3 separate regions of the Homo sapiens genome follow, and all the other regions are linked to region 1. The links come from fine-mapping of genetic effects on gene expression. A gene starts in region 1. Each other region holds a variant in brackets. All regions are shown on one strand. Distances are from middle to middle.

Region 1 (10,942 bases):
TTTATTCTTCATTGTCTAAATAAAAGTCAATCTTATTTCTAAAATTGTTAATGCTCATGAAAATAGCTAACAATTCCTGAGTACTCACCTGGTATTTTGTTAAAAGCTTTATGAAACATCTATAGCATAAATTAATCCTTCTAGCAACCATGTGGGTTTGGTGTCATCTCCTTTTTACAGAGCAAGAAACTGAAGCTTGAAAAAGGTAAATAACTAACCCATTGCTACATTAGCTATAAATCTGTCAAATCAAGATTTAAATGTAGGTATGTTGGTCAGTCTCCAAAGCCTATAACCATTACTACAGGCCTCACACTGAGCTATACATGCTATAATAAATTATGTCAGAAAAGACATCAACATATAAATCACTAATTATAAATTGACTTTTAAAATGATCTTCCTGATCAGAGAAGATGGCCCTGGAGATGGTGCTGAAGGACCTGGGGCATCTGCAGGCTTGTTGGCTGTGTTTGCTGGTCAAGACTATAGACCAGTTTGAATATGAAGGTTCTGACAACTGTAACACCTATCTACAGACGAAGAGTAACTGAGATGGTATATGACTGCACTAGCTCTTCCTTTGATGGAATCATTGCAATGATGAGTCCAGAGGACAGCTAGGTCTCCAAGTGGCAGCGAGTCAGTAACTTTAAGCCAGGTACATATGCGGTGTCATTCACTGGTCACCTGCCCCAAGGAATCGTGTAGGAGCTGAAAAGTCGAGGAGAGACCTACAAATCCAGAGACACAGCTGCAGCACATCGTGTCCCTGAACCATTTTCTCTTCCTTGGATGACAGGTGCGGGTGGGAGGGATTTGGGTTGGTGGATTAACAGATCGAACTGAAGAGAAAGTAGGATGCTGATTTTCCTATCCATGGCCCAGGGATGCACCTTGCCCATGGCAAGGACTCTAGGTCAAATGCCAATAAATATGAACCTCTAGAAAGTTCTTAAGGCCATGATACATTCCTTGCCTCCCTCTCCCTTTCTCTTAGGCACAGTAAGAGCTTGTTTATGCTGTAAGAATCTTCCCAGAACAGCAGAGGCCCTTCTACTCCCTACTGACTGTCTCTGAGCCTTCTGTACTGCAGCCTTTCTAGTGTGCTTCCTTGCTTCCAATCAGAAGGTGCTGTCCAGAGGCTAGGTAATCCCATCAGCTTGGTAGTCCTGGGGTCTCGTGGTTGTATCTTTCTGCCCTCTAGACCTGGCACAGCAGTATCCCTTGAAGAAATCCTGAGGCTTCATAGTGCTCTTCGCTCCTTGACCACGTTTAATAATTCTTGCTTTTCCCCCTCCTCGTCTCTTCTCTTCTGTTTACCGCTCTTCCTATACCTTAGGCCAGTCTCACATCCCTGCATTTCACATTCTCCTAACTGGAGACCCTTGGGCCTTAGGCAACTGCTGGGTCCTAGTCTGCCTTGTTTGTGCCTCTGTAGGAGGTAAGTCCTTCCTTTTCTCCTCTGGCCTAGTAGGGGACCTTGGGTAATGTCCCATTTTGGCCAAGGTGAGGTATTCGTTTTAGAATAAAAAATTCACCATAAATTCTCATTTACTTAAATTTCCACAGAAATCCTGTTAGTGTCCCCGTTTTGATTTCCCTAAGTTGCTGGTTCTCCCTCTGTAAAAAGAGAATGATTAGACCCTGCCTGTTTACCTCAGGATTGTTGTGATTGTAGAAATGAAGCTATGTGAAAATTGTGTAAGTCTTACAAAGGTGAAATCCTTTTGCTTAAAAAATAATAATCTTCTTTTTTTCTTCTTTAACTGATTTTAAGCTCATTATGAAATATTTAATCTACATAAAAAGTATAAATGACAGTACAATGAATATTCATGTCTTTACCACCCACCTCAAGAAATAAATTATCAATATTGTGGAAGCCCCTGTGTATTTAGGATAGTTCATTACTATCCTAAATTTGGTGATTATTCCCATGAATTTCTTTCTCTTCCTCAATTTTCTACTTTGAAAATTTTAAAGCCTACCAAAAAATAGTAATACAATGAACACCTGTAGATCTTTCATCCACTTTTACCAACTGCTAAAATTTTGCTATATTTGCTTTATATACACATATCATTTTTTTCTGAACCATTTGAAAATGTCAGCCAGGTGTGGTAGCTTACGTCTGTTATCCCAACACTTGGGAGGCCGAGGAGGGTAGATCGTTTGAGCCCAGGAGTTCCAGACCAGCCTAGGCAACATAGTGAGACCTCATTCTACAACAAAAAAATTTTTAAAATAGCCAGGCATGGTGGCGGGCACCTGTAGTCCCAGCCACTTGGGAGACTGAGTAGGGAGGGGCCCAGGAGTAGGAGTTGCAGAGCCAAGATCATGCCACTGCACTCCAGCCTGGATGACAAAGCAAGGCTCTGTCTCAAAAAAATGGAACAGCAAGGCATTTCATCCCTCAATAATTTAGAAGGCTTATGCTAAGAATAAGGACTTGCTCCTATATTATCACGATACCCTTCTGACACCTATAAAAGTCAGCATTAATTTGATAACATAATCTAATACAAAGGTATCCAATCATCTGGCTTCCCTGGGACACACTGGAGGAATTATCTTGAGCCACACATAAAAGACACCAACAATAGCTGGTAAGCTTAAAAAAAAAAGGCACAAAAAAAATCTCATATGTTTTAAGAAAGTTTACAGATTTGTGTTGGGCCACATTTAAAGCTGTCCTGGGCTGTGGGTTGGACAAGCTTGGTCTAATACAGAGTTCATACTCAAATGTATGTCATTATCCTGGGAAGGTATTTTACATCTATTCGTTGCCCAATTCAAAATACAATCAAGCTTCACACATATTTGGTCATTAGTCTCTCAGACTAGGACTTTTTTCCAACTTTGTATTTTTATAACATTAACTTTTTTGAACAGTCAAGGCCTACTATCTCATCTCTGGATTCTGGATTGTTTCCACATGCCTAGACTAAGGTTAAATAATTTTAGTAAGAATATTACAGGGAGATGATGTGAACAACTTATTCTGTCACATCAGGAGACACATAATATCAACTGGTACCAATACTGGTAAAGTTAGGTTTGACTGTTTGGCAAAGTTTCAGAAGGCCCCCCTTACATTTCTTTTTACTTTTCATATGCATGTATGTCTGGGCAACATATATTGTTTCGTATAATTTTGTTTTTGTTTTTTTCTGAGACAGAGTCTTGCTCTATCGCCCAGGCTGGAGTGCAGTGGCACGATCTCGGCTCACTGCAACCTCGGCATCCTGTGTTCAAGCAATTCTTCTGCCTCAGCCTCTCGAGTAACTGGGATTATAGGCACATGCCACCACACCTGGCTAATTTTTTTTTTTTTTTGTACTTTTAGTAGAAATGGGGGTTTCGCCATGTTGGCCAGGCTGGTCTCGAACTCCTGACTTCGTGATCTGCCCTCCTCGGCCTCCCAAAGTGCTGGGATAACAGTCGTGAGCCACCGCACCCGGCCTATAGTTTTAAAACTTCATAAAAATAGCATCCTACTACATTAATGATTCTAAAGGTTTTTTTTACACACAGATTTGTGAAAATCTTCCATGTTTAAAAGTGAGCTCTAATTCACTCATTTTTCACTGCTATACAATATTCTGTCATATGAATGTATTTGCCTGTTCACCTACTGATGGATATCTAGGCTGCCTCTAAATTTTGTTACAAAAAATACTGTTACATTCATTCTCGTGCTTGTCTCCTTGTACATACACGTTAGGAGTTTAAGTTGTGTGCTTTCTGAGTGAGAAGGTATACACAACTTAAACTTAGTAAATTCTGTCAAATTGTTCTCTAGAGCATATAATTTACATTCCTATTTAAGTGAATTCTATTAAATGCCACTGTTTAAAAGAGATATTCCATTTCTACCCTCAAAAGCAAAGTTTTATGAAGAAATATTTTCTGAATCTCTTAGTTCTCTAACTCCAAGTTTACTTCTATTTAAATCCGTGGAATATTTTAAATGTTAAAAAAAGAAAAGAAAAAAAAAAGCCAGGCGTGGTACCAGTAGTTCCAGCTACTCTGGAGCCTGAGGCGGGAGGATCACTTGAGCCCAGAAATTTGAGGCTGCAGTGAGCTAAAATCACCACTGCACTCCAGCCTGGGAGACTGAGAGAGACTCTGTCTAAAAAAAATTTAAAAAATAAAAAAATTAAAAATCCCAGAAGTAATCCAATCAATAATCTACAGCCCTTTCAAAAAGCCTATAATCATATCAGGTTTTTCCTCTGAAAACTGGCTTTTTAAAAAGGTTGCTACATAGCTCTCTTTTCAGACCTTAAGTCCTTTAAATTTACATGTACCTCCAAGATTACCACCATTCATATAAGTTTTTATTCACACTATTTTGATGAGTAAGTTTCAGACACAATTTAGTGGCCAGTTTTACTGTGCTTTGTCTGCCAAAACTTCCAACCTAAACCATAGCAAATTTTTTAAGTTGGCCAATCGATTCCTATCCAGGGTTAAGGGTCTTTTGAGAGAAAAGAAGAGCTCTTGGACGTAAACAGGTATAAACAGGATATACCTCAGAGAAAAACTCTGGTACAGGACAAATACCACAGAGAAAAGAGTTTAAAATATGGGGAACCCCTACTTGAAGTTCTGACTCAATAAAACTGCAAAGAAGTTCAATGCTGGCTTGGGGAGAAGTGAGAAAGAAAGAACAGTGTGGTGCGCTGGCTCTTGAATCCTACACACCTGCTCGTGCAGGGGGAGGTGCAGCCCCCACCTTAGAGCCGGGACCTCGAACGCGAACGCGCTCACGCGCGCACCGACCCCAGTTGCCGGCCTAGCGCCAGGGCAGTGCCTCACCTGCGTTCCGGTTCCACGGGGCGGTGCTTGTCCACGATGACCGGTTTCGGCGGCGGTTGGAACGCACCGGGCTCGGAAGGCCCAGTGCTCTGCTGCCGGACAGGCCCCGCGTGGACCCCTGCGGGAGCGGACGACGGAGGTCAGAACTCTCGTGCCAACCCTGAGATCCCGCAGAGCCCCGCAATCTCCCCCAACCCGGCGTCCCACGGGGGACCAACGCTGGGGTTGCCTCTGATCTCCAGGTTCGCCTCCCCCATCCTGACCCTGGGCCCCTAACGCGCCCCAGCTCGCAAGTCCGGCTCCACTTACTGCAGGCGATAGAGGCCGGCGGGGGGAGCAGAGTCCTGGCGGCTTGGAAACTCCGGCCTAGGCCCATTGCAGCCCAGTGCCCCGCTGCAATGCAGGCCGCCATGCCAGCTAGCTCACGTCAAGACTACAGCTCCCAGTAATCAGTGCGACGAGGTTGTTGCTGTCTGCCACCATATGGCGGCTGCTATGGGACAAAATGGATAAGTCTCTCCTCGCTCCTTTCCTGATGTCTTAGGAAAAGTGCACGTTTCTCTAGTTCCTCGTAATGCGCCAAGTTACACCCCTCCACAGGGGTGTTCTCCCAGCCTAGAAAGCTTTTTCCTCCCCCTATGAATCCACTCTATCTTCTCAGACAAGCTTTCGCTATGCGAAAATCCCATTGTAGGCCGTCTTTCCCACTGGGTGCCTTCGATTGGCAGCTCTGATCTCATTTGCAATTCTTTCTTGTGTAATTATTAGATTAGTATTTAAATCTGCCATTATACTATAATGAGGCAAGGGAAGGGATAAAGTCTTCTTTTTGCTCACCATGTTATCCCAGCACCTAGCACCTACCTGGGCCCTCACTAACATCTTTTGTTTTGTTGAGACAAGGTCTTCCTCTGTTACCCAGGCTGGAGTGCAGTGGCGCGATCATGGCTCTGCAGCCTCCAACTCCTGATGTCAGGAGATCCTCTCACCTCAGCCTCCCGAGTAGCCAAGACTACAGTCTCGCACCATCACGCCCAGCTAATTTTTCTAATTCTTTGCTGAATGCACAGAAAAGAGAATAGAATAGTTCCTGACAGAACTGCTGGCCCATAGTCCTTGAGACTACACAAAGCATTAACCCTTTGAGGAACCCAAATGAATTTGGGCTGGGCAACTGTGGGTATGGATAGGTGGGAGAAGTAAAGCTGGAAAAGGTAAATTGTAAGTCTTGTTAAGAAATTTGGAAAATGACTGGGCGTGGCCAGGCATGCCTGTAATCCCAGCACTGTGGGAGGCCGAGACAGGAGGGTCCCTTGAGCTCATGAGTTGGAAACCAGCCTGGGCAATATAGTGAGACCGTATCTCTAAGAAACAAACACACAGCCGGGCGCAGTGGCTCACGCCTTTAACCCCAGCATTTTGGGAGGCCGAGGCGGGCAGATCGCCTGAGGTCAGGAGTTTGAGACTAGCCTGGCCAACATAGTGAAACCCCGTTTCTACCAAAAATAAAAAAAATGATCCAGGTGTGGTGGCAGGCTCCTGTAATCCCAGCTACTTGGGAGGCTAAGGCAGGAGAATCGCTTGAACCTGGGAGACAGAGGTTGCAGTGAGCCGAGATCGCGCCATTGCAACAAGAGCGAAACTCCGTCTCAAAAAAACAGAAAAAGAAACACACACAAAAAAAGAAATTTGGAATTTGTTATTTCAGCAGTGGTTATATAAGGATTGAACACTTAGAGTAATGTGATAATTTAACTACATAATAGTCATTCCAGTTGCATTAATGTCCCAAAGCTACCTCAAATTCAGCCTATCCATACTGAGTTCATCTTTTTCAGCTCCAGACTTCCTTCCCAGTATTGGCTATCTCAAGGAATGGCTTCAGCATCCACTCTCTTGCCTAAGCCAAAAATCTCAGTGCCATTCTTGATTCCTCCCTGTCTCCTCCTGGATGAAGTTCCAAAAACTATGCCTGACACCGTCAAATATCTCAGGAATCCATATACTTTCTCATCCTCCCATCCATATTTCCAATCTAGGTCAACATATTTTCTCTCTTCAGGATCCCTGGAGATCCCTGCAACAGCCTTCTCATTAGTCTTCTTGCCTCTGGTTACCTCCAGTCCTTCACGCAGCAACCAAAAAAAGATGGCTCAGAAATGCATACCCTGTTCTTTCCTTTCCCCAGTTTAAAGCCTTACTGTTTACTTTTGACAGAAGTCAAATGCTCATAAAAGCAACCAACCTCTGCAGCTTGGCCTCTATACTCTGACTTGCCATCCTGAAGAACATGAGCTGTTACATCAGCCTGAGGAACAGGGCCATGTTTTGAGCACAGAATTCAAGATGCTGTGAAGAAAGACAGGGCCTTCTATTTTAACTCTAGCTTCTTTGATTAGAACAAGAATTTATTCTATAAATGACAAGGAATCTCACAACCAAAATTTCAGATGAGCAATATTTTGGCTCTTCTACCTACCCGAAAAAGTAGACTTCAAGCCCTTAAGAGTAAAAGGGAGGAGAGGCAAAGATAATCATGACTGGCAGTGGTGAAGATTTTTCTGTATTAACCATGCCCAGAACACGTGGCCTTCACTCTTGCTGGGATTGGTCCTAAAGGTAGGGGCAGAGAAATAAAAGACAGACCTTCACAGGAGGACAGCAGGATTTACTAGACATTGCCAAGCCACTCCTGCTGCCCTCTCCTCTTCCACAGATGAAGGAATAGTTGTGTAGAGTTTTACAAAATTGGAAGAATGAACCTAAAGAATCTTATCTAATTTTCTCCCGTATTCTTGCTCATCCAACATATATCAGGCCGTTTTGACCTTATCTTAATTTGGAGAACAAGCTGGAGTTTAAATTATTCCAACTTAAGTTGTTATTAAACAACTTCATAGAGCAAAATCAAAGAGCACAGAGCTGGCTCAACCATTTTATGAGCTGATCACAGGAATAGAACTTTAATTATTTACTTCTGTGTTTTACACCCTTGGAAAGGAGATCATGAACATCATTACATAATGTTCAGCCAAGGGAAGAAAGTATTCCAGGCAAACTGGCTGCTTCAGGTTATTGTGACATCAGGATCCTTGTCGGTTTTGCTTGTTATTACATCCTCTATATTTAGTAGAGTATCTGGCACCCAATAAATATTTCTAAGTAAAATTAGATAGATCATTCTGATTGTACTTTAGAAAATGGCTGGGAAGCAGGAAATTATTGAAATATTCCAAAAGAGAGATGGTGCTAACCTGGAACAGAAAAAAAAAAAATGGTTCTTAAAGTGTGAGCCCTTGACTAGCAACATCAGCACAACCAGGGAACGTGTTAAAATTACAAATTCTCAGGTCCCGCCCCCAGACTTACTGAATTTAAAACTCTGGGCACAGAACCCAGTGATCTGTGCTTTAGCAAATCCTCCGGTGATTCTGATAGTTGTTCCAATTTGGGAACAATTGAGGTAGAGGCAATAGAGATAGAAAGTGGTATTTTTTTTTCTGTCTCTCCATCTATTTGTGAGGTAGAGTCAGTAAAAAAAATTTCTGAAATGTACTAACTGGAGTCTTTGAGAGAGGTTCCCATCTCTGCCTTTTCTTCTTCATGGGTAATAGGATAGAGGTATGCCTACCTCATTGGGTTGGTATAAGGATTAAATTGTGATAATGCATAAAGTTTGCAGATAAATGTATAGATCATAATAAAATTCTTTTTTTCCAACTTTACTGAGACATGATTGAAAGATAAAAATTTGTATATATTTAAGGTGTACAACATGATGATTTGATATATGTATGCAATGTGAAATGATTATCACAGTTTAGCTAATTAACATATCCTTCACCTAATTAAAAAAAAAAGCTTTTTGTAAAACTTATTTTAAAGATGCCAGCAAGAGGAAACTATAATCTGATTCATGTATTAACACATCCAAAAAAAGAATCTCCTATTCCTAGAAAACCGTAAAGATGCTACCAAAAGACGCCTAGACCTGATAAACAACTTCAGTAAAGTTTCAGGATACAAAATTAATATGCAAAAATCAGTAGTATGTCTATTCACCAACAGTGTTCAAGCTGAGAACCAAATCAAGAATGCAGTCCCATTTACAATAGCCACCAAAAACATAAAATACCTAGGAATACACCTAATCAAGGAGATGAAATCTCTACAACAAGAACTACAAAACACTGCTGAAATAAATTATAGATGACACAAACAAATGGAAAAACATCCCATGCTCATGGATTGGAAGAATCAATGTCACTAAAATGTCCATATTGCTCAAAGCAATTTACATATTCAACGACATTCCTATTAAATTACTATCATTTTTCACAGAACTAGAAAAAAAAACAATTCTAAAATTCATGTGGAACCAAAAAGAGTCCAAATAGCCAAAGCAATCCTAAGCAAAAAGAGTAAAGCAGGAGGAATGACATGATCTGACTTCACACTATACTACAAGGCTACAGTATCCAAAACAGCATGGTACTGGTACAAAAAGAAACAAACAGACCAATGGAACACAATAGAGAACCTACAAATAAAGCCGCATACCTACAACCAACTAATCTTCAACAGTCTACAAAAATTAGCAGTGGGGAGATGACATCCTATTCGATAAACGGTGCTGGGAAAACTGGCTGACCATATGCCAAAGAATGAAACTAGACCACTACCTCTCACCACATACAAAAATTAACTCCAAATGAGTTAAAGACTTACATGTACGACCTCAAACTACAAAAATCCTAGAATAAAGCCTAGGGCATACTCTTCTGGACATTCACCTAGACATAGAATTTATGATTAAGTATCACAAAGCATAGATGGAGTGGTGAGATTAAGCGTGTTCCCTGCTTTTGCAATTTTTCTAGCTACATTTTCTGTAATAGGTACATTTTGGTTTTACAATGAAAATCAATACACTATTTTAAAAACACAGCTGAGCGTGGTGGCTCACACCTGTAATCCCAGCACTTTGGGAGGCCGAGGCAGGCAGATCACAAGGTCAGGAGTTTGAGACCAGCCTGACCAACATGGTGAAACCCCGTCTCTACTAAAAATACAAAAATTAGCAGGGCATGGTGGCGTACCTGTAATCCCAGCTACTTAGGAGGCTGAGGCAGGAGAATCACTTGAACCTAGGAGGCGGAGGTGGCAGTGAGCCGAGATCGCGCCACTAGCATGCCAGCCTGGGCGACAGAGCAAGACTCCATCTCGAAAAAATAAATAAATTTAAAAAAATAAAATAAAAACACAAATGCACTGACTATGATAGTTCTTACTTCCTTTGCTTCACTCTGAGGGAAGCCAGGTACCTGTTATGAGCTGCCCTATGGAAAGGTCCATATGGCAAGGAACCAATGTCCCCAGCCAACAGCCAGCAAGGCTGCTTCTTGCCACAGGAATGAGCTGGCAAGCAGACCTTCCCTTAGTTGAGCCTTGAGTTGACTATAGCCCCAGCCAACCTCTTGATTGCAGCATTGTGAAAGACCTGGAGTCAAAATCACTCAGCTAAGCCACTTCTGGATTTCTGACCCACAGAACCGTACAATAATAAATGTTTGTTGTTTTAAGCTGCTTAATTTAGGAGCAATTTATTAAATAGTAATAGATAGTGAATAAAGGAGTGTATGTGTGGTGGGGGTGAGCTTATGTGGCAACATGAAGTTCCTTCATCCAGGCAAAATATATACTTCAAGGCCTCACAGATAATATTGACTTTGGAGAATTTGTCATGGCCTTGGGTCTGACTTTTGATTTTGGAAGCCCAGAACCTGATTTTCAGCACAGCATTAAATAGATACATCATTTAGGGCAGACTTACATGAACCAAATTTTTGAAATTGATATGACAAAACTAAATGCTAGTTTATTAACTTATAAGTGAACAAAAAATAATATGCTGACCAGAATACCAGAACATTTATGTCTTTGTGACCACGACTTTCTCTCTCGGAAGGCAAAATTTAATGTCACATATGGAAGGGGTTGCTTGATGAACATGGAACAAAGGGAGTTTAATATAGGTTTCAAGTGTTTATTGGCAACAAGCTAAGTCTCCTATTAGGGAGGATTTCATCAATGGAATCAGAGAACTTGACAACTGTTG
Region 2 (5,441 bases), 40 kb before region 1:
CTTAAGGTATTTATGCTTAACATATGAAAAATTATCCTGATTATATTAGTTGCTTAAATTCCCTTACTATTGTGTTAGGCATTAAATACCTTACCCTTAGAGTCGGAGCTGAAATTTAGAGCTTTGGAACAATAGTCAGAAAATGTGTGCTTTCGGCTACATTCTTCTTTTCTTGGCTGTCACTTGATTTTTAGGCTAAGCATCATTAACATCAGTAAAGCAAACACATTTTTTTTTAGCTTCTTGTACATTAAATTTAAAATCCTCCCAGAAAGTATAAGGTACTGTTGGGTTTGGAGAAAGTAGATATAAAAGCCTTGTTTCAAGAATTCTTAAGTTGGAGATGACATACTGGGAAGAGTTGCTTAGGGTTGTGTTGAGAAGGTGGAATGCAAGCCTTTGAAGAGTTTATGGGGTAAACAGGATGAATCAGAAAGGGAAAGGTGTTTCATAAAGGTGTAAAGGGAGAAGTATTAGTTCAGGAGCTAGAAATTGCACAGATATTTAGATCCTAAGTTAAGGAATATAAACTCTGTTCACTGAATTTGACTGACTAAAAGAAAAAAAAAGAAGTATGAACTCAGCAACTGCCTACTGTGTAATAGGACCTTTAACTAAATCACATACAAATTACATATTTATGCTTAGTGAATTGAAGGGGCCAGAAATAAACTTTGCTTGAAGTGGATGAATTTTTTTTATAAACAAATTCCATGGCTGTTTCAAGTGCCTAACAAATTTGTATTTTGCTCCAAGCAGAGTACTTGCCATGTGGTAGGGTCTAAAGGCTCCGGCACACACTAGGTAGTTGTTGAGTGTTTGTTGTGTGATTGAATGCATGAAATGCAGCTTCTTCTTATGTTACTTAGACACCATGTCTCAGTCATGCTGTCCTGCAATCCTGCCTAGCCTTGGTGGTCTAGTGTTAAAATAGGGAATTAATCTCTTCTGATCCTTAGAAAAGCTCTGGTGATTATTGAAAAAAATAATAACTATTTAAAAATACACTAATGTTGAAAGATTTCTTTATAACTTTTGTAATTTTCTTTGTAAGTTGGAATCCACAGGTTTAAAAGAGATGCCATGGTTCAAATCTGTAGAAGAATTTATGGATAGCAGTGTGGAAGATTCAAAGAAGGAAAGTAGTTCAGATAAAAAAGTCTTGTCTGCAATCATCAACAAAACAATTATTCCCCGACTTACAGGTACTGCTTCGTAACCTTGGTAAAATTAAATTATTTTCTGACAGAGTATATAAGGTTGTTAATTTCTGTTATATTCACAAAGTTTTTTCATAAGTTTTTAATCTCAAGGAAATGTTATATGTAGTAAAAATCAACAGCTGTCAAATGTAAGGTGGTTAAAAAATTTGTGTTTGTACAGGTGGTTGGCTACCAAACTGCTAATACTCAGATTGATCACTAATCCTCATCTGACGTATCATCAGCAGTTCCAACAGTTGACCCTTCTTTCTTCCTAGAAACACTGTCTTTACTTGGCTACCAAAATACCACACTCTTAGTTTCCTGCCCACCTCTCTGGTCTTTGCTGTCTGCTTGTCACCTCTTTGACTTCCAAGTGCTACAGTATCTCTGGATTCAGGTCACTTACCTTCTCTGTTCTATTTACTTCAGTCACTTAGTATTTAAAGTCAGTTTAGTGTTTGTGGCATTCCCGCTGCTTTTATGGCACTTCAGTCATTTTTTAGCACACTTCCATCCATACTACATGTGTCCTTTTTTCCCCTTAACTTCTCTAATTGTGTTTCTTATCCTTTTCTTTAAAACCATTGCTTCATCTGGGAGTGGTGGTTCATGCCTGTAATCCTGGAACTTTAGGAGGCCAAGGCAGGTAGATCACCTGAGGTCAGGAGTTCAAGACCAGCCTGGCCACCATGGCGAAACCTCGTCTCTACTAAAAATACAAAAAACTAGCTGGGTGTGGTAGCAGGCACCTGTAATCCCAGCTACTCAGGAGGCTGAGGCAGGAGAATTGCTTAAACCTGGGAGGCGAAGGTTGCGGTGAGCCGAGATCGTGCCATTGCACTCCAGCCTGGGTGACAAGAGTGAAACTCCGTCTCAAAAAAAAAAAAAATTGCTTCATTTCACTCACATTTGCCACTAGCAGCTATGAGCACTTAACATTAATGCTTGTGCTTCAGACCTTAGCATGAAGTCTTTTGTTTTACCTGTGTACTTGATAAGGATCCGTTTCACTATGTCACTGAGAAAGAAATTTGACAGCAAAGACTGCAAAACTCTTATTTAATTTTTTGTGTGTTTGTTTTTGAGACAGGGTCTTCCTCTGTCACCCAGACTGGAGTACAGTGGTGTGAACATTGCTCAAGTCAGTCTTGAATTCCTGGGGTCAAGTGATCCTACTGCCTCAGCCTCCCAATTAGCTAGGACTCCAGGCGCGTGCCACCATACCCAGCTAATTTTTAAAAGATTTTTTTAGAGACAGGGTCTTGCTCTGTTGCCCAGGCTAGTCTCAAACTCCTGGCCTCAAGAGACCCTTCCCCTAAGCTTCCCAAAGCACTGGGATTATAGGCATGAGTCACCA[T/C]GCCCAGCCTAGAAGTTGGAAGCAATTAGCCTTATAATTGCTTCTTAGGCAACTTGATTATAAGATTTTGGCTGGGTGGAGTTGCTCATGCCTGTAATCCCAGCACTTTGCAAGGCCGAGGCAGAAGGATCGCTTGAGCACAGGAGTTCCAGACCAGCCTTGGCAACGAGGTGAAACCCCATCTCTATTTATAAATTTAAAATTTAAAAAAAATAAAAAATAAAAACTTTCAAGATTTTATTTCAATGAAACTTATGGTGCATTTGTGGGGTGTGTTAGAAAGTTACTATTTTTAACTAACTCTACTAATGATAGAATGCATGTGCCTAGTTTAAGCACTCTGCTGAAAAAATCTAAATACTAATGATGAAACAGTCCCACAAATAAGTAGCTTTGTGAGAAATTAACACTGACTGAGTCCAAATAGTGATTGAATTCTACATATATTTCAAAGATAGCACTAACAGAATGTGCTAATGGATTGGTTGTGCAGCAAGAGAGAAAGAGAGGAATCAAGAATGGGTCCATTGAGGAATTGGCCTGAGCAACTGGAAGGACAGAGGTGCCATTTCCTGAAATGAAAAAGTCTGACAGGAGTAAGCTTAATGTGGGGAGCTGTATTAGCATAGCAGCTCAGTTTGGGACATGTTGATTTTGAAGTACCTGTAATCTAAGTGGACATGTCAAGTCAGTTGTTGAATACATGAGTCTTAAAGGGGGAGGTCCAGTCAGAAGGTATAAGTTTGGAATTTATCCACATGACATTTATTGATGGCATTTAATGTATAAAATTGACTTTGAATACCAAGCGAGTGAATATAAACCGAAAAGAGAAGGTAAGTGACCTGAATCCTGAGATACTATAGCACTGGGAAGTCAAAGAGATGACAAGCAGACAGCAAAGACCAGAGAGGTGGGCAGGAAACTAAGAGTGTGGTATTTTGGAAGCCAAGTAAAGACAGTGTTTCTAGGAAGAAAGAAGGGTCAACTGTTGGAATTGTTGATGATAAGTCAGATGAGGATTAGAATCAATCATTGGAGTTTGCTATGTGAATGTCATCTGTGATTTGCTAAGAGCGCATTAGGTAGGCTGATAAGAGATAAGGCCTAATTAAAGGGAAAGCAAGAACAAGTGAGAAGAGAGAAACTGGAGATAGAAGTTTAGATAGTACTTTGAGGAATTTTGTTGTAAAAGATAGGAGGGAAATGGAACAATACTAGAGGAGGAAGTAGGGCTAAGGGGGATTTTTTGTTTGTTTATTATTATACTTTAAGTTCTGGGGTACATGTGCAGAACGTGCAGGTTTGTTACATAGGTGTACACGTGCCATAGTGTTTGCTGCACTCATCAACTTGTCATCTACATTAGGTATTTCTCCTAATGCTATCCCACCCCAGTCCCCTGACCCCCAAAAGGCCCCGGTGTGTGATGTTCCGCTCCCTGTCCATGTGTTCTCATTGTTCAGCTCCCACTTATGAGTGAGAACGTGCAGTGTTTGGTTTTGTGTTCTGGTGTTAGTTTGCTGAGAATGATGGTTTCCAGCTTCATCCATGTCCATGTCCCTGCAAAGGACATAAACTCATCCTGTTTTATGGCTGCATAGTATTCCATGGTGTACATGTGCCACATTTTCTTAATCCAGTCTATCATTGATGGGCATTTGGGTTGGTTCCAAGTCTTTGCTATTGTGAATAGTGCCACAATAAACATACATGTGCATGTGTCTTTATAGCAGCATGAATTTATAATCCTTTGGGTATATACTCAGTAATAGCATGGCTGGGTTAAATGGTATTTCTAGTTCTAGATCCTTGAGCAGTCGCCACACTGTCTTCCACAATGGTTGAACTAGTTTACAGTCCCACCAACAGTGTAAAAGTGTTCTATTTCTCCACATCCTCTCTTTTAATTGTGATGTTAGGATGTCGATTTTAGATCTTTCCTGCTTTCTGTTGTGGGCATTTAGTGCTATAAATTTCCCTCTACACACTGCTTTAAATGTGTCCCAGGGATTCTGGTACGTTGTGTGTTTGTTCTCATGGTTTCAAAGAACATCTTTACTTCTGCCTCCATTTCTTTATTTACCCAGTAGTCATTCAGGAGCAGGCTGTTAAGTTTCCATATAGTTGTGCGGTTTTGAGTGAGTTTCTTAATCTTGAGTTCTAATTTGATTGTACTGTGGTCTGAGAGACTGTTTGTTATGATTTCCATTCTTTTGCATTTGCTGAGGAGTGTTTTACTTCCAATTATGTGGTCAGTTTTAGAATAAGTGTGATGTGGTGCTAAGAAAAATGTATATTCTGTCGATTTGGGGTGGAGAGTTCTATAGATGTCTATTAGGTCTGCTTGGTCCAGAGCTGAGTTCAATTCCTGGATATCTTTGTTAATTTTCTGTTTCATTGATCTGTCTGTTATCGACAGTGGGATGTTAAAGGCTCCCACTATTATTGTGTGGGAGTCTAAGTCTCTTTGTAGGTCTCTAAGAACTTGCTTTATGAATCTGATCTGAGTGCTGCTGTATTGGGTGCGTATTTATTTAGGATGGTTAGCTCTTACTGTTGCACTGATCCCTTCACCATTATGTAATACCCTTCTTTGTCTCTTTTGATCTTTGCTGGCTTAAAGTCTGTTTTATCAGAGACTAGGACTGCAACTCATGCTTTTTTTTCTTTTTTCTTTTTTTTTTTTTTTTTTTTTGCTTTCCATTTACTTGGTAAATATTCCTCCATCCCTTTATTTTGAGCCAGTGTGTGTCTCTTTACATGAGATGGGTCTCCTGAATACAGCACATTGATGGGTCTTGACACTTTATTCAATTTGCCAGTCTGTGTCTTTTAATTGGGGCTTTTAGCCCATTTACTTTTAAAGTTAATATTGT
Region 3 (10,942 bases), 31 kb before region 1:
TGGAGGCTTTGTTTGTTTCTTTTCACTTTTTTCTCTAAACTTGTCTTCTCGCTTTATTTCATTGAGGTGATCTTCAGTCTCTGATATCCTTTCTTCCACTTGATCGATTCAGCTATTGATACCTGTGTATGCTTCACGACATTCTCATGCAGTGTTTTTCAGCTTCATCAGGTCATTTGTATTCTTCTCTAAACTGGTTATTTTAGTTAGCAATACCTCTAACCTTTTTTCAAGGTTCTTAGCTTCCTTCCATTGGGTTAGAACATGCTCCTTTAGCTCAGAGGAGTTTGTTATTACCCACCTTCTGAAGCCTACTTCTGTCACTTCGTCAAACTCATTCTCCATCCGGTTTTGTTCCCTTGCTGGTGATGAGTTGTGATTCTTTGAAGAACGGGCATTCTGGTTTTTGGAATTTTCAGCCTTTTTGCACTGGTTTCTCCCCATCTTTGTGGATTTATCTACCTTTGGTCTTTGATGTTGGTGACCTTCAGATGGGGTCTCTTAGGGTACATCCTTTTTGTTGATGCTGATACTATTCTTTTCTGTTTGTTAGTTTTGCTTTTAACAGTCAGGCCCCTCAGCTGTAGGTCTGCTGGAGTTTGCTGGAGGTCCACTCCAGACCCTGTTTGCCTGGGTATCACCAGCGGAGGCTGCAGAACAGCAAAGATTGCTGCTTGTTCCTTCCTCTGGAAGCTTCGTCTCAGAGGGTCATCCGCCAGATGCCAGGCAGAGCTCTCCTCTGTGAGGTGTCTGTCGGCCCCTACTGGGAGGTGTCTCCCAGACAGGATACACAGGGGTCAGGGACCCACTTGAGGAGGCAGTGTGTCCCTTAGCAGAGCTCGAACACTGTGCTGAGAGAACCACTGCTGTCTTCAGAACTGTCAGGCAAGGACGTTTAAGTCTGCTGAAGCTGCGCCCACAGCCACCCCTTTCCCCAGGTGCTCTGTCCATGGAAGATGGGGGTTTTATCTCTAAGTCCCTGACTGGGGCTGCTGGCTTTTTTCAGAGATGCTCTGCCCAGAGAAGAGGAGTCTAGAGAGGCAGTCTGGCCGCAGTGGCCTTGCTGAGCTTCGGTGGGCTCTGCCCAGGTCGAACTTCCCGGTGGCTTTGTTTACACTGTGAGGCATAAACCGGCTACTGAAGCCTCAGCAGTGGCGGACACCCCTCCGCCTACCAAGCTGAAGCATCTCAGGTTGGGCTCAGACTGCTGTGCTGGCAGTGAGAATTTCAAGTCAGTGGATCTTAGCTTGCTGGGCTCCGTGGGGGTGGGACCCACCAAGCCAGACTACTTGGCTCCCTGTCTTCAGCCCCTTTTCCAGGGTGGTGAATGGTTCTGTTTCTCTGGCGTTCCAGGTGCCACTGGGGTATGAAAAAATAAAAATTAAAAAAAAAGCCTGCAGCTAGTTTGATGTCTGCCCAAACAGCCACCCAGTTTTGTGCATGAAACCCACAGCCCTGGTGGGGTAGGCACTGGAGGGAATCTCCTGGTCTGCCGGTTGCGAAGACCGTGGGAAAAACACAGTATCTGGGCTGGAGTGCACTGTTCCTCCTGGCACGGTTTCTCGTGGCATCCCTTAGATAAGGGAGAGAATTCCCCAACCCCTTGTGCTTCCCAGGTGAGGCAACACCCAACCTTGCTTCAGCTCACCCTCTGTGGGCTGCACCCACTGTCCAACCAGGCCCAATGAGATGAACTGGGTACCTCAGTTGGAAATGCAGAAATCACCGGCCTTCTACGTCCATCTCGCTGGGAGCTGTAGACTGGAGCTGTTCCTATTCGGCCATCTTGGCAGCCTCCTTACACTGAGGGGGATTATTTTTAATACAAGATAAATAGTTGTTTGTAGGGTGATGGAAAAAATCTAGTACAAGTGATGTCAATACCAAAGTGGAAGGACAGTGTTCTGGGAACAGGATCTTAGACTAAGCCAAAAGGCTTGGGATCTCATCCACAAAATAAACAGTTTGCCTGAAGTGGTGGGAGTGTGGGTGCCTCATCCATAGGAATAGGAGACAAGTTAGAGCATATCGGCACAGATGTAGGTAGGTGTGTAGATGCTGTGGTAGGAGCTTCATAGTGCTGCTTTTCTGATTGCTTCTATTTTCTTAGCAAATTAGGAAGTAATTAGCTGAAAGAGAATGCAAGGGAGTAGAAAAAATAAAGTAGGAAATAATCATCTAGAAGGAAAAAGTCCATCAACTGAGAGAGAGATAACGGAGAGGGGAGAAGGTATGAAGTAATCATCTAGGTGAGAGGGAGAGTGAATGGACCTGAGAGACAGAGAGAGAGAGAGGCTCACTCAAGTTGTATAGTGATCAAGTTAATGTGTTTGTTTTTCCAGCCACTTTTTATCTGCATGGTTGCAGGCAGAGACTCAGTGACAAGGTGAACTTAACTATAAAGAGCTGTAGTTTAGCCAGAGGAGTTTAACAAAGCCCAAGAAGAACAAGGAAATTGAAGATGTATGCAAATATGTAATGGTAATAATTGGCCATGGAACTTAAACTGAATAAGGAGGGAAGTAGTGTTTGTTAAAGGTCTTGATTATTTGTATATGAAAAGCAAAACAATCTAGTAAATACATTGTGTACCACTGAAATATTTGTTTCAGACTTTGTAGAATTCCTTTGGGATCCTTTGTCAACCTCACAGACAACAAGTTTAATAACACATTGCAGAGTGATTCTTGAAGAACATTCC[A/G]CTTGTGAAAATGAAGTTAGTAAAAGCAGACAGGTAATAATTTCTAGAGTTGCGAACTCCATGATCTATCTCTAAATCATTATAATTTTCTTACAGATCTTGGTTTATAAAAGATGCAGAAGTGATTATCAGAAAACTGTTTGGGGGAAAACATATTTACTTTTGATTTATAGAAACTAGACTTTTTCTCAGACTGCACTGAGATGAAAAAAAAATTTTTTAAACTGGACTTGGCTATTTTTTATCTTTATAATAATAAGATGAAAGAATATACCTTGATACTTCTCAACACTGTGATAGGAGTGGTAATCATTTTAAATTATAGACATACATGTAAGGACCCAGATTATGACTTTCATTCCTATTAGCTTACTTTTCTCTGTTCAGTGATCTGATTTGTGTTCTCATGGCCCAGGCAGCCATCTTTCAGGATTATGAATATACACTGGCCCTGCAGAGATGAACCGGTATAAATTCATTAGTGCAAATTCATTTCTTCTAAAGGAAGACAACAATACTCATTACCTTTGTTCTTTTGGCAAAAATCCAGTGGCATTGTGGCTTTGCTTGAACAATGGTTTCAAAATTAGACTGACACTTATTGTATTAACTAGTTATTTGTAGTCTACCAAATAATAGTAGTCTCTTTAAGGATTCAAAGTTCAGTAAAACAGATCTTAATCTTACAATGATCTAGAATTGAATTCAGTGAACATAAGACATATTGGGGAACTTTTTAGAGTGATGTTGCTGAGAATCTTCTCACTCTTTCATTGTAGCATTTTTTTTTATTGTTTGTTGATGAGATTGTAGATTCATGCAGTTTTATGAGTAAACCAATTTTAGGTTGAGCTTTAGGAAATTAAGGAGAAATTGACAGACTGGAGAATGCCCGGAGTAGAATGACAGAGGTGGTTGAAAAGCAAGGAGGCATATCATATTCATATTATGAGCACCATTAAGTTTTAGCCCTTGGAACTGTGATTACAAAGGAGGATAGCTGTAAGAAATGAAAGGGAGAAAAGGGATACCAGCCTAATTCTGCCTTCAAGAAGCATGTAATCTCAGAGAAAATAAGATGCACATAAACTGTAACTTAAAACTGGAAGTGAAAAGGAGAAGTAGGGAAGATAACAAACACTTATTTAATTCCAATTGTGTACTAGGCACTCTGTAAGGTCTTGTACCTGTCATCTTAATCCCAGCAGCCCTATTTAAAAAATGGGTGATCGCCAGGTATGGCAGATCACGCCTGTATATCTGAGTGCTTTGGGAGGCTGAGGCAGGAGGATCTCTTCAGGCCAAGAGTTCAAGACCAGCCTGGGCATCATAGCAAGATCCATCTCTACCAAAAAAATAAAAATTAGCTGGGCTCCCCCTTGAGCCCAGGAGTTGAAGCTGCATTGAGCCTTGATTGTGCCACCACACTGCAGCCTGGGCAACAGCAAAACCCTGTCTCTTAAAAGGATGACAGCCTCATTTTATAGATGAAGAAAATGAATCTTTAAAACTAGTTGTCACAGTGCTACTATGAATGAGCACTAGGATTTGAACTTGGATAGTCTGCCTCTAAAGCCCAAGTTTGCCTCACTGACCATGTTGCCTCCCCTTGAGCAGCATAGATAAAGTACTGTGTCTTCAGGAGAGAGACAGGAGAGAGAGGTTACCTTCAGCAGTGGGGATAAGGAAATAATTTATCTTAGGGGTGGCATTTGAACTGTGGCTTGAGGGAAAGAATAGGATTTCAACATGTGGCAACAGAGAGAGAGGCATTTTCTGCTTACCTCCAATAGGATAAAAACTCAAGTAAAATAGATGGAAACTGTTGCAGGAATTAGAGATATTTAATTTGAAAGATGTACAGAGAGATGCTGTTTGTATTCAAAGAAGGTATAGATTTATTCTGTGCTGTTATGCAGCATAGAACCAAGATTAGTAGTTAAAAGCTACAAAGAAGCAGATATATAATCCTGCATTTGCTTTCCATATAGTATTGTTTAGTTATAACCTAAATGTAAATCATTATGCTTTACCATTTGTTAAATACTTTCACATTGTCTCATTTGATCCTCATAACCCTGTGAAATGTATTTATTTTAATTGCATTTTTACAGATGAAGCTGGGGCCCAGAAGGGTTAAGTCATTTTTGAAATACTTGAATACTAAGTGGTAGACCTGGCTCTTTGTGATCACTGAAGCCCTTCAGCAGTATTATGGATTCACTCATGAAGTCTTTTTTTTTTTTTTGAGGCGGAGTCTTGCTCTGTCACCCAGGCTGGAGTGCAGTGGTGTGATCTTGGCTCACTGCAACCTCCGCCTCCCAGGTTCAAGCAATTCTCCTGCCTCAGCCTCCCGAGTAGCTGGGACTACAGGCACCTGCCACCATGCCTGGCTAATTTTGTGTGCTTTTAGTAGAGACGGGGTTTCACTGTATTAGCCAGGATGGTATTGATCTCCTGACCTTGTGATCCGCCCACCTCGGCCTCCCAAAGTGCTGGGATTACAGGCAAACTCAAGCAGTTTTTATAATGGATGTTTTTATTCTGAAACCGCTCTGCTGTGAATGTAGAAAATGGGTTGTTTTCATAAGCAGGAGAATAGATTACATCAGGGTTTTCAGTCTCAGCACTACATTGGCATTTGGAACAGATAATTTTTTGTTGTGAGGGTTTGTCCTGTGCACTATAGTATGCTTAGCAGCATCCCTGGCTTGTGCCCACTAGGTGGCAGTAGCACTCCCCGGTCTTCACAACCAAAAATGTCTACACATTGTCAGGTATTCCCTAGGGATGGCAAAATGGCACTTGGTAGAGAATCACTTACACTATATAATGCCCCATGTTGCTAAGACAGTTCACCAGTGGGATCACTCCATTTCTTCAGTGATGAAAGAGAATGAGGTTCAAGAATGAAAATTGAGTCAGACAACATAGTTTCTGTTTTCAAAGTTAGAAGGAAATGCTGTAAGCTAATGCCTGGTAATAATAGTTTTGATTCTGACTAAAAATCTAAAGTAAATTATTATAGAGGAAGATTATGAATACTTAAATTTAAAAAGCAGTAATTACTATAATCTGTCATTGATAGGATTCCCAAATACAAATGATACTTAACATTGTTTATTGAAGCAAATTGTTATTATGATTGTTCTTAGGGATTAAATGGGGAAATATAAGCTTAAGTAAACCTAAAAAATAATGGCCAGTAGGGCATTGGCTACCTATGGGGAGTCTGTTAGTATTAGATATCTTCTCAGCTTTGCCCTGTTCAATATTTTTATTGAACTGGATAAGGAGTTAAAATACATACTAATGAAATGTGTCAGTGACAAAAAGCTAGGAATTCTGTAAGACTTGTGGATGGTAGAATTAGAATCCAAGAAGATTTCAAAAGATTGTAGAAAATTGACTGATTCAAGAAATTGTGAAAAAATAAATGCATGTCCCACCCATGCGTTTAAAAATTCAACTATATAAGTAAAAGATGAGAGAGACACAGTTTTGAAGCAGCATAAGTAAGACAGATTATAATCAATAAACCCAGCGTGAGTCAGCAGTGTCACTTGAGTAACAGAAAACAGGTACATGGGAGTTTCTCCTAGTATGTGTGTGCTATTTTGAGTAAGAATGGCATATTTGGTGATAATACCCACAGATTAGACCTTCCTGGGAATATTGCATTTAATTTTCGGTGTAAGCATATTAAGTGGAGAGTGTCTTAAGATAGTATGGGAAAGAGAAGATGTAAAAAAAAAAAAAGTATGATATTCATCTTAAAATCTAGAAAATTGTCATGTGGAAGTGGGGCTAGTTCTATTCTATATGATCCCAAGAAGTAAACCAAGACCAAGGAGTGGAAGCTGTGGGAGGGAAAAGTTTGTTAACTCTCATTGTTAACTGAAATCTAATAGTCCAAAGTTATGGGCAGCCTCAGGAGATAATGATCCCCTATCAGCAAATGGTTTTAGACATGGCTGGTGGACCATTTAGTAGAAATGTGAAAATAAGTCTAAACATCACTTGGGAGTTCAGATAGATTTTCAGACTCATTTTTTGTTTTTTCTTTTTTATCAACAGAATCTATTTCAAATAAATCTTACGCAATCCGATACGCAAACACACATACAGAAGTAAAACTGCTCCTACTGTTGTGAGCACCTGCCTTTATTCTTCCCCAACCATCCCCAACATTTGTCCAGGCCATCCTGGGATTACCTCCATGGATATAGAGAACAGCATAAAAACCATTGGCATCACACAAGTGCCTCTTTAAAGCTGTTTCAAAGTATATATATATACACAAAGGGTTGTATGTGAGTCTGAAAGTGTGATTCAGAATGCTTGTTAAAACTGTTTGGAGAACCTTATTTTCCATCAAACAAATGATGTTATTTAATACTTAGAAAAGTTAATATCTCACGGTTTTAAAATATGTGAATTTATGGGAGGTTTCTTTTCTTTTTTTTGTTTTTTTTTTTTTTTTTGACAGAACCTTACTCTGTCACCCAGGCTGGAGTGCAGTGGTGCAATCTCAGCTCACTGCAACCTCCACCTCCTGTGTTCAAGCGATTCTTGTGCCTCAGCCTGCCAAGCAGCTGGGATTACAAGCATGTGCCACCATGTGTGGCTAATTTTTTCTATTTTTAGTAGAGACAGGGTTTCACCATGTTGGCCAGGCTGGTCTCAAACTCCTGGCCTCAAGTGACCCACCCACCTCAGCCTCCCAAAGTGCTAGGATTACAGGCATGAGCCACGGCAACCGGCCAGTGAATTTATGTTTTGTTTTAAACAATTTATTTGGAAATATTAATACTTTGAAAGAAAACTTTCATGAATAAGAGTAGTATTTCCATATTCCCTTTACCAAGATTTACTTGTCATTAATATTTTGCCCCATTGGCTTTATCATTAGCCCTTCCATTTTAAATATATACATACAATATGTTTTCTCCTGAGTACTGAGAACAGGGTGCATATTTGTTAAGACAAGGATATTATGTTATATAACCAGAGTAGTTAGCAATTTCAGTAAATTTATCAACACTTAATCTACCATCCATATTCCACTTTTGCCAGTTGATTCAATAATGTCCTTTATAACATTTTCAATAGAACTATTTTAAGAAACAAAATTTAAACAATATGGGAACATTTGTCAAGGCCAGCATCCAAAATCATTAAAATTAAATGAAAAAAATCAAAGCAGCTTTTTTTGTATCATGAACACCTAACTCAGTAAGTTACATAAACTCAGATGCTATTTTTTGGAGATACTGTCTAGAAAATGCTTTTTTTTCTTTGAACAGAATTCAGAATGTTTAAAGAATGGAGTAAAATACAACTGAGTTTTAATTTTTAACATTAAATAAATGTTGATATATGGCCACTTGAGGAATATGTTATAGATAATTAAGTGGAAAGAGAAACGACTTCAGGTCATGCTTTTTAAGAAAAATATATTTGAATTCTACATTTATGGATAATTCAGTTAGTATATAGTATGTGACAGTTGAATTTGTGCTGTATACATTGTCATTGACTTAAAAATTAACTTTTACTCTAATGTGTAGTATGCCATTTTTATTTTTCAAATATGAATAAGAATATCATTATATAAATAATATAAATATTGCTAATATATGAAAAAAATAAACACTCATTGTCTTTCATCCTAGTACAAGGATTAATACCATCGTAGGATATTTTCATCCTGGCTTTTTTTTCAAAGTTATAATCCTAATAGGCATGTAAGTTAGTATACTACTTCTGCTTAATGTTATCTCATTGCGTATTTATAGTTGTCTGTTACTGTAGTCATCATAATCTTCAGCTAAAGTTTATGATAGATTCACTGGAGCGATGTAACATCTCCTTAAAATTCCCTGTGATTGAATAGTTTGGTCATTTCCAATTTTTTTATGTACAAACAAAATGGATTTCCCTAAGTGGATTTTCCAACAAAGGACCCACAGCTGGAGTATATAAAAGACTTGTACAAATCAGTAATAAAAAGACAGAACCTAATACAAAAAAATAGCAATGTTGGCAAGCAGCTTAATTAGGTACTTTGCAAAACGGCTTGCCAAGTGGCAAATAGGAATATGAAAAGATGCCCAACAGCACATTACTCAATGATAATTAAATGAGAATTAAAACAACAAAATGAAATATGACTGCATACCCACTATAATTGCAAACATTAAAAAACAAGAAAATGCCAATTATCGTAAGTATGTAGTGAAACAGGATTTATTTTATACTGCAGGAATGATGTAAATGGGATGCCACTATTCTAGAAACCGTTTGGTTTTTTGTACGTAGTTGAACGTATGGACATGAACTGTACTCCAGCCATTCCATTTCTATTTATATACCCATTAGAAATGTATGACCATGCATACTAAATGACATGTACAAGAATTTTTATGGCAGCATTATTTATAATAGCCACCAAACCAGAAATCACCTAAGTGTTCCATCAATAGTATTCATGCAACAAAATACTATATAGCAATGAAATTGATCCAACTATACCCATATGTAGCAACATGGATAAATAAGGTTTTTTTTGTACCCAATTGATAGTTATTTTAACAGCTGGTTATGTGAGTGTGGATAAATTTGTACTGCAGTTAAAATTACTTTTTTTTTGGTAAATACATTTCTATCTTCTATCACTGATGCTTTTCAAATTTGTAATAATAGGATTTACTTAAATCCATTGTTTCAAGAATGAAAAAGGCAGTAGAAGATGATGTTTTTATTCCTCTGTATCCAAAGAGGTAAGCGCTGTTAATTTCTAGATTGTTGGAAATAGCTGATCATAGAATACAGATTTGTTTAAGAATGCAATGCAAAAGAAACTACAGTGTTTTATTTTTTGTTTTGTTTTTTGTGTTTCTTTTTTTTTTTTCTTTTGAGACTGAGTCTCACTCTGTCGCCCAGGCTGGAGTGCAGTGGCGCGATCTCGGCTCACTGCAAGCTCCGCCTCCCAGGTTCACGCCATTCTCCTGCCTCAGCCTCCCATGGCTGGGACTACAGGCGCCCGCCACCACGCCCGGCTAATTTTTTGTATATTTAGTAGAGATGGGGTTTCACCATGTTAGCCAGGATGGTCTCGATCTCCTGACCTTGTGATCCGCCCGCCTTGGCCTCCCAAAGTGCTGGGATTACAGGCGTGAGCCACCGCGCCCGGCCAACTATAGTGTTTTCAAAACATGTGTACACATACTCTATGAGGATGCAAATTGAGATTTCAACAAATATTTCTCAGTGACTTACATAAAGCCGTGCTTTATCTTGGCGCTTAGATGAATTTTGTTTGGTTGGTTTTGGTTTTGGTTTTACATATATCCTAGGAACATAGCAGGTGATATAGAGTGGTAAAGAGCACACGTCCACTGTTAGTAGGTATTTTTATGCACTTGTTTTCTCATCTATAAAATAAGGATAAAATTAGTGCCTACCTCACAGGATATTAGGGAGATGAAGAGAATGCTCAGAACACAACAGGGCCTAGCACAGAGGAAGCACAATGCTGAGGAACGAGAAACTGCACCTGTAAATTCTGCAGTCACTTTAAATTATAAAACGAGTATTTGATGTATGATCATAACTTTGCTAAGAAGCCATCAGTTATAATGATGCATGAACTGTAGCAATCCAGTGAGTAGTGACAGGATGGAGGAGCTTTATGGAGGGGGAAGAAAGGAACCTCAAAGCTTTCTGATTCATTTTGAATCATGAGATGTCTACATGTAAAAATTCTGCCTTGGTAAACTTTGTTTATAATGTTTTAGATAATGCATTCACATGGTTCAGATGTATGAATGTGATATATTAGTTATTTGTTTATAAATATATATTTTATAAACATATTTATAAATATATAAATATATATTTTATAAACATATTTATAAATATATAAATATATATTTTATAAACATATTTATAAATATATAAATATATATTTTATAAACATATTTATAAATATATAAATATATATTTTATAAACATATTTATAAATATATAAATATATATTTTATAAATAAATATATATTTTATTTATAAAATAAAATAAACAATCTCTATTTATATTCCATTAAGGCTTAGTTTGGTTGGTTTAAAAGAAAGTCTGATCTTAAACTCTGGTTCTGAAAGACTAATAGTTCTTTGCATTTTCTCTTCTCTTTCGTTTGTTTCTAATTAGTGCTGTAGAAAACAAAACATCACCTCATTCAA

Alleles and levels. Positions count from the first base shown, and alleles are read on the strand shown. Sizes are in standard deviations (SD) of each study's normalised expression.
As copies of T replace C in region 2, the expression in amygdala of the gene that starts at base 5,261 in region 1 goes up (moderate effect, 0.54 SD a copy in GTEx).
In carriers of allele G in region 3, the expression in thyroid of the gene that starts at base 5,261 in region 1 tends to be lower than with A alone (small effect, 0.12 SD a copy in GTEx).

Evidence for each region. PIP is the estimated chance that this variant, and not a neighbour inherited with it, causes the effect.
Region 2: its variant is the best candidate, but not a certain one, in a credible set for the expression of MRPL19 in amygdala (GTEx, PIP 0.64).
Region 3: its variant is the best candidate, but not a certain one, in a credible set for the expression of MRPL19 in thyroid (GTEx, PIP 0.51).

Annotation. Positions count from the first base shown.
Region 1 is chr2:75,641,102-75,652,043 of GRCh38, reverse strand. It overlaps MRPL19 (mitochondrial ribosomal protein L19), which reads right to left and starts at 5,261. Exons shown (of 6, transcript NM_014763.4): 1 at 5,134-5,261; 2 at 4,825-4,942. The coding sequence starts at 5,236. It also overlaps the pseudogene SUPT4H1P1. RefSeq lists enhancers at 5,032-5,331, 5,167-5,461.
Region 2 is chr2:75,683,591-75,689,031 of GRCh38, reverse strand. It overlaps GCFC2 (GC-rich sequence DNA-binding factor 2), which reads left to right. Exons shown (of 17, transcript NM_003203.5): 10 at 1-6; 11 at 1,055-1,205. The region is part of intron 1 of LOC124906025 (a long non-coding RNA gene); the gene reads right to left. Among named protein-coding and RNA genes, the nearest start is that of GCFC2, 25 kb to the left of the region's middle. The variant T/C (reference allele first, on the strand shown) is at 2,563.
Region 3 is chr2:75,671,985-75,682,926 of GRCh38, reverse strand. GCFC2 (GC-rich sequence DNA-binding factor 2) reads left to right here. Exons shown (of 17, transcript NM_003203.5): 12 at 2,613-2,734; 13 at 9,407-9,483; 14 at 10,911-10,942. It overlaps LOC124906025 (a long non-coding RNA gene), which reads right to left and starts at 10,611. Exons shown (of 2, transcript XR_007087113.1): 1 at 3,075-10,611. The variant A/G (reference allele first, on the strand shown) is at 2,702.